Homo sapiens: one gene and its partners. The protein of the gene in region 2 purifies or fractionates together with the protein of the main gene of each other region. This does not show direct contact. Each region holds a gene or a part of one and is shown on either strand. Other genes may lie near its edges.

Region 1 (3,500 bases), on a different chromosome or scaffold from region 2:
ATATCAAGAGGTACCTGAGTACAGGGCGGAATGTGGAAATGGAGGTTGGATGCCCATAAGGGGAGGGGTCCACAATAAAAATGATATGTGATAATGATCCCACGTGTGTAAACTTATGTAGGTGTGATATAAGCATGCCTGCAAAAAGAGATAAATGAACCGGGTGCAGTAGCTCACGCCTGTAATCCCAGCACTTTGGGAGGTCAAGGCAGGTGATCACCTGAGGTTAGGAATTCAAGACCAGCCTGACCAATATGGTGAAACCTCGTCTCTACTAAAAATACAAAAATTAGCCAGGCATGGTGGTTCACGCCTGTAATCCCACCTACGTGGGAGGCTGAGGCAGGAGAATTGCTTGAACCCGAGAGGTGGAGGTTGCAGTGTGCTGAGATCGTGCCACTGCACTCCAGCCTAAGTGACAGAGAGAGATTTAAAAAAAAAAAAAAAAAAAGAGATAAATGAAAAGGTGATCACCAAAAGTTTTTTTTTTTTTTTTTTTTTTTGAGACGGAGTCTCACTCTGTCGCCCAGGCTGGAGTGCAGTGGTACAATCTCGGCTCACTGCAAGCTCCGCCTCCCGGGTTCAGGCCATTCTCCTGCCTCAGCCTCCTGAGTAGCTGGGACTACAGGCGCCCGCCACCACGCCCAGCTAATTTTTTGTATTTTTAGTAGAGATGGGGTTTCACCGTGTTAGCCAGGATGGTCTCGATCTCCTGACCTCGTGATCCGCCCACCTCTGCCTCCCAAAGTGCTGGGATTACAGGCGTGAGCCACCGCGCCCGGCCCAAAAGTATTTTTAAAACATTTAAACAAGTATCTAACATAAAACATTAAAGCCCTTAATTCCCTTGCTTCCAACTACTTGCTTGATTAGGAGCAATTAATTAAACCCACTATTTGATGTATGTTTTTCCTGATTTTTTTCTATGCATATAAAACACAATAATGAGATGATACATGCTACACATACTATTCTGCAGCAGGCGTCTTCCCACCATGGATCTTCTCCCATAACAATGCTTTACAGAACCACCATGACCTTTTGAATGGCTACAAAAGATAGCATGTATGAATGCATCATGGTGTGTTTTTTTCTCTAGTGATAGACAAGCTGCCTGAAATTTCTGGCTACTCCTAATGTTACAATAACTATCCTTGCACACAAACCCTTGTACTTGTAGGCAAGTCTAATGGGATAAATTCCTTAAAGTACAACACCTGGGTCAAAGAGAATGAACCTTTACAACTTTGATAAGTTCTGCCAAATTGTCCTTTAAACAGGTTGTACAAATTTATGTTCTCACTAACAAGAGTTAGAAAATGCCCTTTTCCCAAAGCTCTAACATCAGAAATTTTCAATGTTTTAAATTTTTGACAATTTGATTACAAAAACTCCTATCTTTTTAAACTGTGCATTTCTCTGATCACCAATATAGTCAAGGATCTTTCCTTCTTTTATTAGTCATTTATATTTCTTCTGTGAGCTGCCTGATCATACCCCTTGCTCAATTTTCTAGGTTCCAGTTAACTGTTCTCCCTACCTCTGGCTTCATACCCCTACACTAGGCCACCCCCTATATCTGCAGAATTGTCATCAAACACAAATCTGATCTTGTTCCCTCAATTTACAACTCCATAGTCCACAAAATTAAGTCTTTAATATGGCACCTTCCAAGATCCTCCATAGTAACAACGATAATGCAAATACAATAACATCAACAGAAAACGTTTCCTGAATGCATTATCTCATTCAATCCTCAAAACAACCCTTTGAGGTAGTAATTATTATCATCCCATTTTAGAGAAAAAGAAATTGAGGTACACATCCTCAACCACACTTGGCCTCTTGTCAATCCATCCTTATTTCAGCCATTCCCAACTACTTGTATCACTGTGCCCCTCTGCAGACTTCTGTGCTGTGGACATCCTTAGCCTGCACTGCCCTGCCTTAGGCCGCCCCTGCTGTTTGTTGGGTGAACAATGGCTAATCTTTTTAGACCCAGTTCAGGAAAGGCCAAAAGCTAGAGGAATGGTATTTCAGCACATATGATCAGATTTGGAAGTGATCTTAAAGAGACATCTAGTTTCACAATCTATAGACTATGGATTCCAACTCCCATTAGCGGGTCAAAGCCAGGGTTTTTATAAAATTGAAATAAAATAGAATAAAAAATATCAGAGAGCAGGGAGTGAAACTATGTATTGTTTCAAGGGCAGGCATTGTTTTGTGAAGGTTGTGTATGCCAGGTCCCAAAGTAAAATGTGTTTTTTACTGTGGGTAGAGGTCCAACCACCAAGCCACTCTCCACGCCAGAAGCCAGAATGATCTTTCTAAATCTGATTACGTCAGACTCTTACTTTGAAATTTTCTGTGTTTTCCTATTTCCATTAAGATTAAAGACAAAACAAAACACCTCACAATGCCTACCCAGGGCCCTGCTGGTCTCCCGTTCTTCTGAGGTCATCCCAAGCCTTTGAAGGTGCTGTTCCTGCCTGTACACTCTACCCTTGCCCTTTACACCTTCTAAGTCCCATTAATCCTTCAAGATTCTACTCAAATATCACTTTCCCCAAGAAACCTCTGCCTAAGTTTCTTGATCTAGTCTAGGTTGCTAGACTAGGACAGATCTCCAAATTATATACTCTCAATGCATACTGGACTTTTCTGTACAAGCACTCATCACAACCGTAATTAAATAATTATCTAACTGCTGCCTCCTTCCTTAGTTAGTTGGGTTCCTTTTGTATATTTCTAGCAACTCACTTTTGCTTTGCCATTCATAGGAAGCACTCAGCCAGTACTTGTAGAAGAATGAGTCTCCTGTCCAAAGCAAGAATCATCTTCTCTCAGAAACCTTTTCGTGACATCAGTCCTTACCCCATACAATGGACTCCTAATCATCATCGCACTAATGAGGGGTACCACTTAACAAAGCCAGTGTAATATGCTAGCCACACAAATGCTTTGCCTAGGACAACTCATTTTGGTCTCTCACAACCCCGAGAGAAAGGTACTATTTTACATACTCTTACAGTTGGGGAAATGGAAAATTTAGAGAGTTGTTCAAAGTTAAATGCAACCACTAAATGGCAGGGCTATCTAAACACCATTACTAGCACCTATACTACTGTATTGCATTTGTTTGTCTACACATATCTGCTGCTCTTTACTAGATTATATTCTTTGGAGGCAAGGACCAAGGCACAGGCACACAGTAGAGCCTCATTAACTATATTTGCTAAATGAATAAAGGTAGGTGGGAAAAGGCAAGAGTTCAGAGCAGAGCACTTTATAACATCATAAAATAACCTAGCTGGAGAGACCTATCCCCTCTCAGTGTAGGAATCTCCTAGAATTCCTAAAGAGTGTGACTTGCTATACCCCCCGCTATATGGCCCATTCTCTTGTTAGTTAACTCTAGTTGCTAGTTCACTTAGATTCTGCAAGCATTTATTGAGCATCTACTACATACAAAGCTCTATGCTGGGGACTGCAGACAG
Region 2 (3,500 bases):
CATGTAAATATCCAATTGTTCCAGCACCATTAGCTGAAAAGACTATTTTTTTCTCCATTTTAATGTCTTGGCACCCTTATTGAAAATCAGTTGACTATAGATGTATGGGTTTATTTATTTTATACTCTCAGTTCTCTTCCAGTGATCTATATGTCTCTCCTTATAGCAGTACCATGCTGTCTTGACTACTACAGTTTTTTAGTAAGTTTTGAAATTGAGAAGTGTGAGTCTTATTCTTCAACATTGTTTTGGTTATTCTGGATTCCTTGTATTTCCATATGGATTCTAGGATCAGCTTGTTAGTGTCTGCAAAGAAGCCAACTCAGTGGCATTCTGATAGGGATCTCATTGAATTTTTAGTTAAACTTTGGCAGTGTTGCCATCTTAGCAATGTTAAGTCGTCTGATCTATGAACATGAGATGTCTTTCCATTTATTTAGGTTGTCTTCAATTACTTTCAACAACGTTTTTCCGTTTAAGGAGTATAAATTTGCACTTTTGTTAAATTTATTTCTAAGTATTTTATTATTTATTTATTTTTTGATGCTATAGTAAAAGGAACTAGTTTCTTACTTTTATTTTTGGATTGTTCATTCCAAGAGTATAGAGGTACAGTTTTTACCTTGTGTCCTGCAACCTTGGTGAACTAGTTTATTGGTTCTAATAGTTTAGTGGACACCTTAGGATTTTCTATTTATAAGATTGTGTTAGCCATGGATAGAGATAATTTTACTTCTTTCTTTCCAATCCAGATATCTTTTGTTTCAATTTCCTGCTTAATTGCCTTGGCCAGAACCTTCACTATGGTTCAATAGAACTTGCAAGAGCAGACATCCTTGTCTTATTCCTGATCCTAGGGTGAAAGCTTTAGTCTTCTACCACTGAGTATGGGGTTAGCTATGGGTTTTTCATAGATGTATTTTATCAAATTGAAGAATTTCACTTCTCCTCCTAGTTTGGGTGTTTTTTTAAATCATGAAAGAGTGCTGGATTTTGTCAGATGCTTTTTTCTGCATCTATTAAGATGACCATTTTTTTTGTTCTGTTCATATGGTGTATTACATTAATTAACTTTTGAATGTTAAGCCAACCTTGTATTCCTGGGATAAATCTTGTTTGTCATGGTATATAATCCTTTTTCTTTGTTGCTGGATTCAGTTTGCTTGTATTTTATTAAGGATTTGTATCTATATCCATAAGAAATCTTTGTAGTGTTCTTTTTTGGTGATACCTCTGTCTAGTCTCCCCAAAATATTCTTGATTGAGTTCTGTCACCAACTAAAGAGCTTTTTTTTTTTTTTTTTTTTTGGAGATGGAGTCTCGCTCTGTTCCCAGGCTGGAGTACAGTGACGCGAACTCTGCTCACTGCCAGCTCTGCCTCCTGGGTTCACGCCATTTCTCCTGCCTCAGCCTCCCAAGTAGCTGGGACTACAGGCACCTGCCACCACGCCCAGCTAACTTTTTTTTTTTTTTGTACTTTTAGTAGAGACGGGGTTTCATCGTGTTAGCCAGGACGGTCTCGATCTCCTGACCTCATGATCCATCCGCCTTGGCCTCCCAAAGTACTGGGATTACAGGCTTGAGCCACCGCGCTTGCCTAAAGATCTTATCTATTTGATTAGTGGTATCCATATTTACAATCTCTTAAGTAAATCTGTTTTTTTTTTTTTTTTTTTAAGAGACGAGTCTACTCTGTTGCCCAGGCTGGAGTGTGGTGCTGATCTCGGCTCACTATAACCTCCGCCTCCTGGGTTCAAGTGATTCTCCTGCCTCAGCCTCCCAAGTGGCTGGGATTACAGGCACCCACTACCATACCCAGGTAATTTTTTTTTTTTTTTTTTTTTTTTTTTTTTTTTAGTAGAGATGGGGTTTTGCCATGTTGGCCAGGCTGGTCTTGAACTCCTTACCTCAGATGATCCATCTGCCTGGGCCTCCCAAAGTGCTGGGATTACAGGCATGAGCCACTGCATCTGGCCTTAAGTAAAGATTTAACAGAGGTAGGGAGTGGACTGTAGTTCTAAGTCAGCCCCTAATTTGCTATATGACCTGGGATAAGTCATTTTGCCTTTCTGAGCCCAAGTTTTTTGATTCATAAAGTAAAGGTGATGGACTGAGTTATAATCAAAGTATTTACGAGCATTAAAGCTCTTCTGTGGCATTTCCATGGAAATTCTGGTATAGACAAAGTTAGTTCCTTGTCTTTTCCCGATCCTAGGGGGAAGGCTTTAGTCTTCTACCACTGAGTATGAAGTTAGCTGTGAGTTTTTCATAGATGTTCTTTCTCAGGTTGACAAAGTTCTCTTCTATTCCTAGTTGGTTTGGGTGAGCTTTTTCTTTTTTTTTTAAATCTTTCGGCCAGACATGGTGGCTCATGCCTGTAATCCCAGCACTTTGGGAGGCCGAGGCAGGTGGATCACCTGAGGTCAGGAGTTCGAGACCAGCCTGGCCAACATGGTGAAACCCCATCTCTAGTAAAAATACAAAAACTTAGCTGGGCACGGTGGCGGGCACCTGTAATCCCAGCTACTTGGAAGCTGAGGCAGGAGAATTGCTTGAACCTGGGAGGCGGAGGTTGCAGTGAGCTGCGATCGCACCATTGCATTCCAGCCTGGGCAACAACAGCAAAACTCTGTCTCAAAAAAATAAAAAAATAAAAGGATGTTTCATGATAAAAAGTCCAGAGTGGTGATTTACTTTATTGTTGTTGTATTTTAAAATTTCATTTTATTGAGACAGAATCTCACTATGTTGCCCAGGCTGGTCTTGAACTCCTGGGCTCAAGCAGTCTTCCCATCTCTGCCTCCCAAAGTGTGGAGATTACAGGTATGAGCCACCATTCCCGGCTAGTGATTTACTTTATTTATTTATTTATTTATTTATTTATTTATTTATTTATTTTTATTTAGACAGGGTCCCACTCTGTCGCTCAGGCTGGAGTGCAATGGCGTGATCTCAGCTCACTGCAACCACTGCCTCCTGGGTTCAAGTGATCCTCCCACCTCAGCCTCCCAAGTAGCTGGGACTACAAGTGTGTGCCACCACACACCGCCACGCTTAGCTTATTTTTGTATTTTTTGGTAGAGGTGGGGTTTCGCTATGTTGGCCAGGCTGGTCTGGAACTCCTGACCTCACGTGCTCCACCTGCCTCGACCTCCCAAATGGCTGGAATTACAGACATGAGCCACCACACCTGACCCTATGATTTACTTTAAAAGATCATCCTGTTTTACCAAAGGATTCATGTTGGATCTGTTGAAAAACAACAGTTCCCTGCTGCTTTTTGAATGTGGTTCCATTAATAATGATTTGATTTGTAATTAGCTTTTAAGAAACATAACTATTAGTTCCAATAAGATACTTGCTTTTTTTTTATTTTTATTTTTTTAAACAAACATAGCTTACAAAAGCAAGCCGGCTGGGCGCGGTGGCTCACGCCTGTAATCCCAGCACTTTGGGAGGCTGAGGCGGGTGTATCACCTGGGGTCGGGAGTTTGAGACCA
Region 3 (3,965 bases), on a different chromosome or scaffold from region 2:
AGCTACATGGCCTTGAAAAAGATTTTTAACCTCCCTGTAAAATTTAGATATTAACAAATGCCTACTTTTTTAAGTTAAAGACTAAATTAAAAGATACATGAAAATGCTCAGCACAATACCTAGCAAATAGCAAGAGCTTAATACATTTTGGCAATTATTGTGTACATTGATTTTAAATTTTCTCCCTGACCTTTTAATGCTAGTAAGTGGAATACCTCAAATCCTGATACCTATCAAGGATAATCTACCTGTAGGAAAAACCAGCTTCCAGGCAAAAATCATATCTGTTAAGAGTGGTCTCTGTACCTGGTGGGAAATTTCTTCCCAAAAATAGTAGATTCTTCTACCTACTCTCTTCTCCCTACGAATGCCAAGTATCAGTCCATGAAAGGAGACAAGAGTTGCTAAACTGGTTGGTAGTTTGTTTTGTTTTTATTTCATAATATGTATTGCCACCTTCCATGAACAGCCAAAAGAGAGCAGAGGACCAAATGACAGAGTGCATGCTCTCTCCTTTCAAGCTGTCCAGTCACTCTTTCATCAGGACACGGACCTCTTAGGGGATGAATGGTTTTATTTCCCCCAGAAATAAATTAGGCCAAGGAGATTGTTGGCAAGCACTGGGGCGAGACTGGCCCAACTACAGCATCCCTAGCCTGGGGACACCTTCTTCAGTGGACATGAATGGAATTGCTAGGCTTATGAGCTAGGATTAGGCTTGGGGAAGAAAGTGACTTTCAACATCTAGAAAAGCTAGCAGCAAAACTGAACACAAATGAGTTTAGCCTAGAGAATTCAGGGGAAAACTAAGCTCCAAGCGGAAGAAGGTAGTTCTAGATGAAAAACCTGTTTCACATAGACCTATGGAAAAGCACACTGCCCAGAGGACTGTCTGCGTTCCTTTATATCAACATTAAATATATATACTATCTCTGCCTACTCCCTCCCTGCCACCTGTCCTTCCAGTCTCAGCCCAAACCGGCTCCTCCTCCTTCCAGCCCTCCTTTTTTAAAGAGCTCTTTATTAGCTCTAAACAGGAAAGGGGAGGGTAGGAGATGATTGGCTAAGAGGGAACAGCACCACCCTGCTCATTCCCCTCCCATTCCCTCCCTGAGGAAACAGCTGGAATGAGAGGTAGGGAGGGGAGGCTAGGATTGGCTGAGTCAGTGGCAGGGTGGGGGCCAGGCAGCACAGATGAAGCATTTACCTATCTAGGTAAGTCAGGAGGAGCTCAAAAGGAGAAGAAAACAGTAGGAGGCAGGGGAAGCAGCCTCTGTCTCCATCTCTGCCCTTTGAAACAAAAGGGTATTTCTTTTCTCTCTTCAGCCCCCAACCCAGTGGAGGTGAGTTAATCACTAACCAACTATTGCTTATCCTATAGCAATAGGAAGGGGTTTCATGGGAAATCAGAGCTACAGGGGAGGGGAGGTGTCCCTCTATACCCCAGCTAGGGAGATTTCCTCTCTGTTCCTCAATTCTCTGAGTCCATTCTGGGATCAGATCAGGTTGGTAGCAACTTGAGATTGTAGTGTTTTTGTGGAGACTGGGGCTGGGAGGCACCTTCTTTTTCATTTATCCCTTTAGGTTGGATAGGCATATTGTGCAAACAACAAGAAAAAGAAAATAGATTTGTTTTGGAAATTTCCATCTCTGAACAATTGAAATTGAGTTGTGATTTTAGAAAAGAACAGTTGAAATAGAGGGAGTCAAAATGGGGGAGAGTATCTTGGTTTTCCATAGCGACTGTAACAGGAAATTCTCCCGTGGCTTTACCAACTCGGTGTCGATCTTTATTTAAATAATGGGTGCAATGTGTGTGTGTGTTTGATCATGCTCATGTGATAATGGAGCTCTCTGTGTACAGGTGTGTTAGGCATGAGCTGTACTAGGTTGTTTGTAAAGGGATATGAGGTTGGGGCACATGGAGAAAACTTCAGCTACCAGCTCATCTTTGGAAAACCCATGGATAATCTAGCTGCAAAGTCAAGTTTATTTGGATTCTACTCAATTAACTTTCTGACTCAGCCTGTTAATAGACACAGAGACTGGCAAACAGAAAGCTACCTGGCTGTGCCGAGCCTCACCCACATGAATATTTCGTGGCTGCATGTCAAGTCTAGTTAGAGTTCCAAGTGGGGCTCAAGCCAAGGTAGTGTGGCAGAGTCCACAGACAGAGAAGCAGACCAGGGTGGTGGCTTTGTTTGTTTTCCTGCAGGTGTCCCAGTTGGCAGTTTGTGTGGCAGATTTACCTGCAGAAGGAAGGCAGATGTAGGAGTCGAGTCAGAGTAGCAAGTTGCCTCTCCATTATCCATCTTGGGGGGTTTAACCCTTTGGTCCCTAACTTTGACTCTTTTCCTCCTGCTGCAGAGAAGAGGGAAGTGGGAAGCCCTCAGTGCCAGGCTCAAGGGCCTGGCACACGCAGCCCTGAGTGAATATATGGGTTTTCCAGTCCTGGCAACTGGAGATTTAGGCTTGAGCTCACCTCACACCACAGAGCCAACACCCCACACTCACAGACTGAGGGCTGCCCTAGATGGTGAATTTAGGAATAAAGACCACTGGCAGTGTCTAACAAAGCTCTGCTATGCAGAGGGTATTTCTACCTGCTCCTTCCCTCAAACACACTGGTGAAAGGGAAGATGATAATGTTGCCTAAACACACACAGAAACTTGCCCATGTGTTCATGGAGACAGATATGCAAACTGTGCAAGTTTTAGTCATTCTGCTATTTTTCTTAGGATATTTTCCAGCCCAAGGCACATTTCTGGGTAGTCAACAAGAAGCAAAGACACCTGGATTGAAAGACAGGAAACCTCTTTGACTAGTAGGCAGAGAGGCAAAGCTCTTGGAGGACATGTGGGGGGTTCGTGGGAGGAGGATGAGAGGGACCTGGGTCTGATTAGAAGGTACAGACAAGCCAACCTGGAATGGAGCTGGAGCCCTCTCCCCACCCCACCATCTCCAGATGCCAGAACTTGAACTGTTCTTTATTTCCTCTCCTCCAAGGCTTGGCAGTATTTAGTATTTTAGTCAGTGGTGTAGTTAATATTTAATGTGTCTTTGGATGGGTGGCCCTGACTATAGGTGCTGCATATTTCTTAACCCATTCCCTCCTCCCGTTAAGTTCCCAAAGAGGTCAAGGGTTAAGATACCAAACTCTCACCTTGAGTGTTTTGTTTGTTTCTCAGTCTTCTTATCAGGGTTTCGATGGCTGCCCTGAAAGAGCCCCAAGGTTCAAGGTTGTGAAGTCGGTGAAAGGAAATGCAGCTTTCACCATTAAGATTCTTTAGGTCAGAAAACTAGGTATGGAGATGAGGTGACAGCGCCTCGCTCAGCTTTGGTTTCAGGTTCAGATTCCTCTGTGCAGGGATTATGTAATCCCTAAAGACATGATCTTCCTTGGCAGTTGGTGTCATTTCTTTACTGTAGAAATATCTGCTGTTGGGGCAATACACTGGTCTGGAAGTATAAAGCTGAAGCAGATGATTTGCAGGGTTTAAGGTATGAAGTAGAAGGAGAAGGGGGTTTTAAGGCTTTTAGTATTTTAGTCAGGGGTGGCTAGTAACCATTCTCGGGGGCATGCCCCTCTTGCATCCAGATAGTCCCTGAAATGCCCTGTGGAGGGCTGCCCTGTATATGCATGTATAGGTCATTCCCTGTTTCCCTTAGGAAGGGCTAGTGGTAAGAGCCATAACTTTCTCACCCGTAAAATGAAGAAAACGTCACATCCTGCCTATGTTTCCAGTTTATGCTGAAGATCGAATTAGCATATCTGAGAGTACTTTGCAAGCTATGGCATGCTGTGTTCTTGTGAAGCAGTGCTTTTCCTACCACTTTTATCTCTTCCAGCTACTTGAAGACATCCTAGGTTCTGAAACAAAAGTGTGATAAGCTTCCCTGGTAGGAAAGAGAGACTAGAAAACCTCTGTAAAGTCTAAAGCATACTTAGAAGCACAAGGGTAGT
Region 4 (3,500 bases), on a different chromosome or scaffold from region 2:
TTTTTCAATTTGTATTTCTTTAACAATGAGGTTAAATTTTTCCCCCAGGCTTATGTGTTATGGACTTTTGTTTTTCCTGTCTTCCATCATTTACTGGTAAAGAAGTTTCCCTCCCTCCATCCCTCCTTTCTTTTTTTTGGCGGGGGGAGGGGGGTGGCGGCGGCGGGAACGGAGTATCTCTCTGTTGCTCAGGCTAGAGTGCAGTGGTGCAATCTCGGCTAACTGCAACCTCCACCTCCCGGGTTCAAGTGATTCTCCTGCCTTAGCCTCCCAAGTAGCTGGGACTATAGGCGTGTAGCACCACGCCTGGCTAATTTTTGTATTTTTAGTAGAGACGGGGTCACCATGTTGGCCAGGATGGTGTCGATGACTTGACTTCGTGATCCACCCGCCTTGACCTCCCAAAGTGCTGGGATTACAGGCGTGTGCCACCATGCCTGGCCTCTTGTTTCTTTCTTTATTTTTGTAGAGATGGGGACTCACTATGTTCCCCAGGTTGGTCTCAAACTCTTGGACTCCCATATAGTTCAATCTAATGCTTGCTTTTCAATTCTTCCTATTTCTCTGAAGCTTAAAATAATTAAAATACATAATAATCCTTCACTGTTAAAACACGTGCGTGAAAAATACCAAATTTATTTATTTTATATTTGTTAGTAGTCAGTAGGATTCTTACTCCAGTTTTAGAATGTAATGAAAAGGAAAGGTACAAAACACACATGTCACGCACTTACTGTCAAGCTAATTACAAAGACTATGCCGCAGATGAAATCCATCTAACCAGCTCTGTCTGAAGGAAAGAGCAGGGAGCATGTGTGAAGTACAACTGTGGGGTCACCACACTCACCGATATCCTGTCTTGGAACTCTGCCGTGGGTACAATGGGAATAGTTCCACCATGCTTTCCAAATTTTCTTTCTAAACTCTCTTGAACAGACACTACAAAAAAATAACAAGAGATCAAGATATTGCTAACAGAAAAAAAAAAAAAAAAGTAGAATCAAAAGTAGTCCCAAACTATAACTGTAACCCAAAAACTTATACAGACAGAGTCGTGGTCTGTCACCCAGGCTGGAGTGTAGAGGCGTGATCTCAGCTCACTGCAAACTCTGCCTCCCGGGTTCACGCCATTCTCCTGCCTCAGCCTTGCGAGTAGCTGGGACTACAGGTGCGCGCCACCACGCCCAGCTAATTTTTTGTATTTTTAGTAGAGACGGGGTTTCACCGTGTTAGCCAGGATGGTCTCGACCTCCTGACCTCGTGATTCATCTGCCTTGGCCTCCCAAAGTGCTGGGATTACAGGCGTGAGCCACTGCGCCTGGCCTTATACAGAGTTTTAATGACATAAAAGGGTTAATCATTTAAAACTCAGTCAGGAAGGAATAAAACACATTGCCAATTTCCTATATAAATGTGAATTTAGGTCACTGCTCTGTTTCCATAACACCCATTACCAGGGTTTTTCCTTGGCTCTATTAAAAAGAAAACGCTGGGGGAAAAAGAAAAGGAAATAGATGGAACACTTCACCCAGATTCTCACAGTGGGCTGAGTACAGAAGCTCAGTAGGAGGTCTTGGTCTTATTTCAACTAGATGAGAAATTCTACTCTTAACTGTGGAGCTTACTCTAGTCAAAGAAAAACAAGTATTCTCATCAGGAGTCTCAAAAACAATTCTTGACACTAGATAGGCCTTTACTAAGAGCAACCAGAGACAGAAATTAGTATCGACAGTGGAGTTTTAAAATCACACTTAAAAAAATATTATTGGCTGGGCACAGTGGCTCACGCCTGTAATCCCAGCACTTTGGGAGGCTGAGGCAGGCGGATCATGAGGTCAGGAGATCAAGGCTATCCTGGCCAACATGGTGAAACCCCGTCTCTATTAAAAATACAAAAATTAGCCGGGCGTGGCGGTGAGTGCCTGTAGCCCCAGCTACTTGGGAGGGTGAGGCAGGAGAATTGCTTGAACCTGGGAGGCGGAGGCTACAGTAAGCCGAGTTCGTGCCACTGCACTCCAGCCTCGGCGACGGAGCGAGACTCCCTCTCAAAAAAAGAAAAAAAAAATGTAGATTATATTCTGTGAATATTACATCACAGAATAAAACTCTGGATATAATATATGGGAGAGTTAATATCCAGAAAGACATTGTGCATTTTTGGTCTAAGTTTCATGAGACAAAATATTATTTTCTTTTCTGAGACTCAATTCTTTCCCAAAGGGATCAGTTCTCTTAAGTGGACCTTTTTACAGCCTTTCAGCTGGCTCAAAAGATGAGTTTTGGCGAACAAGATTATCGATACTCACTGAGCAAGTGGTAGTTAGAATCCCTTTCATATTTGAAGGTCAAACGGCCATAGCTGACATGATTTAGATTCTTCAGCCACTCAAAGTAAGATACTGTCACTCCTCCAGCATTCAAGTAGAGATCCTATGCACAAAAATAAGACAAAGAAATTAGAAGATGATGGTTTTCGTAAAAGCTGAAAATGAACCTAAGACCTTAATTTCAATACCAAGGTAGACTGGACTTTAAATATCGCAAATATATTTTAGCCAGTATCAGGAATTTCACACTTAATTAACACTCCTTCCCATCCCACCCAATTCCATCTAAGGCTTTTTCTATTTAGGAAAAAAAAAAAATCATTTTTTGGCTTATTAATCAAGGAAAGTTAATAATCTTTGGTTGGAGCCTCTTCTCTACCAGAAGTTAGTTCTCAGACTAAATGGCTTGCCCACCAACCAGTTGGACTGGACTGTCCACAGGGCCTCTCAGAAGACAGGATTCTTTCTCCTATTACCTAAGGGTAGCCCATTTCAGTTACATTAAATGTCTTAAGTGCTTTCAGCAAAGGGGGTTCTTTAAAATATATTCCAAGCCCACATTAATTTCTAGTAACTTTTTGGTGTAGACTCATTTTTACTTGCTAAAAAACCTGAGCACGTGTTCCTCATATTAGTTTTCTGAGTAAAGCTGGAAAGGGCACTTGAAATGCATAAGGTTAGGAATCATATAGAAAATCTTAAGAGCTTTAGTTAGAATAGTGTTTCTAACACAGTACACATTTATATAACCAGACTCTTAGAAGGCTAAAGACATTCAGTAAAGAGCCTGAAATTGGAATAAATGTTTCGATCAAAGTGAAAATTAACAGGCTTAGAATTAACCATGCTTCTACTATATTTTCTCAAAAGTGAAAAAGATGAATTCACTAGAGCTTGGAGACTAATAATTCCTCTCTTCCTCCAAATTCCTTGCAAAAGACTATTATGATTCTAAGTACATATAAAGCCTAATAAATATAGATGACTTACTGGAATAACCATAATGTTTCTCTCCAGGAAGATCTTGTCAGCTTCTGGAGTTGTTGGCCCATTGGCACCTTCAGCAATGATCTGCAAGAGAGTCAGGAACATAGAGAAATGCGAACACCACCGTCAAATCCCCTCCACTGAGGGCAAGAGATGTGCATATATGAACAAGGGGCTGTGGGGAGA

Evidence for each region. The genes of interacting proteins can lie anywhere in the genome.
Region 1: the proteins of RPS6KA5 (region 2) and MOV10 purify together in Homo sapiens (affinity purification with mass spectrometry; one large-scale study listed by BioGRID and IntAct). This does not show direct contact.
Region 3: the proteins of RPS6KA5 (region 2) and C1orf116 fractionate together in Homo sapiens (co-fractionation; one large-scale study listed by BioGRID). This does not show direct contact.
Region 4: the proteins of RPS6KA5 (region 2) and GLUD1 purify together in Homo sapiens (affinity purification with mass spectrometry; one large-scale study listed by BioGRID and IntAct). This does not show direct contact.

Annotation. Positions count from the first base shown.
Region 1 is NC_000001.11:112,677,659-112,681,158, reverse strand, and holds part of MOV10 (helicase MOV-10), read right to left. Parts: intron 1-3,500.
Region 2 is NC_000014.9:91,050,642-91,054,141, reverse strand, and holds part of RPS6KA5 (ribosomal protein S6 kinase alpha-5), read left to right. Parts: intron 1-1,679; exon of another isoform or gene 1,680-1,819; intron 1,820-3,500. UniProt on the Homo sapiens protein: Serine/threonine-protein kinase that is required for the mitogen or stress-induced phosphorylation of the transcription factors CREB1 and ATF1 and for the regulation of the transcription factors RELA, STAT3 and ETV1/ER81, and that contributes to gene activation by histone phosphorylation and functions in the regulation of inflammatory genes.
Region 3 is NC_000001.11:207,029,957-207,033,921, reverse strand, and holds the start of C1orf116 (specifically androgen-regulated gene protein), read left to right. Parts: upstream 1-1,165; 5' UTR 1,166-1,343; intron 1,344-3,965. UniProt on the Homo sapiens protein: Putative androgen-specific receptor.
Region 4 is NC_000010.11:87,056,844-87,060,343, forward strand, and holds part of GLUD1 (glutamate dehydrogenase 1, mitochondrial isoform a precursor), read right to left. Parts: intron 3,399-3,500; coding exon 3,318-3,398; intron 2,431-3,317; coding exon 2,307-2,430; intron 940-2,306; coding exon 848-939; intron 1-847. UniProt on the Homo sapiens protein: Mitochondrial glutamate dehydrogenase that catalyzes the conversion of L-glutamate into alpha-ketoglutarate. Plays a key role in glutamine anaplerosis by producing alpha-ketoglutarate, an important intermediate in the tricarboxylic acid cycle.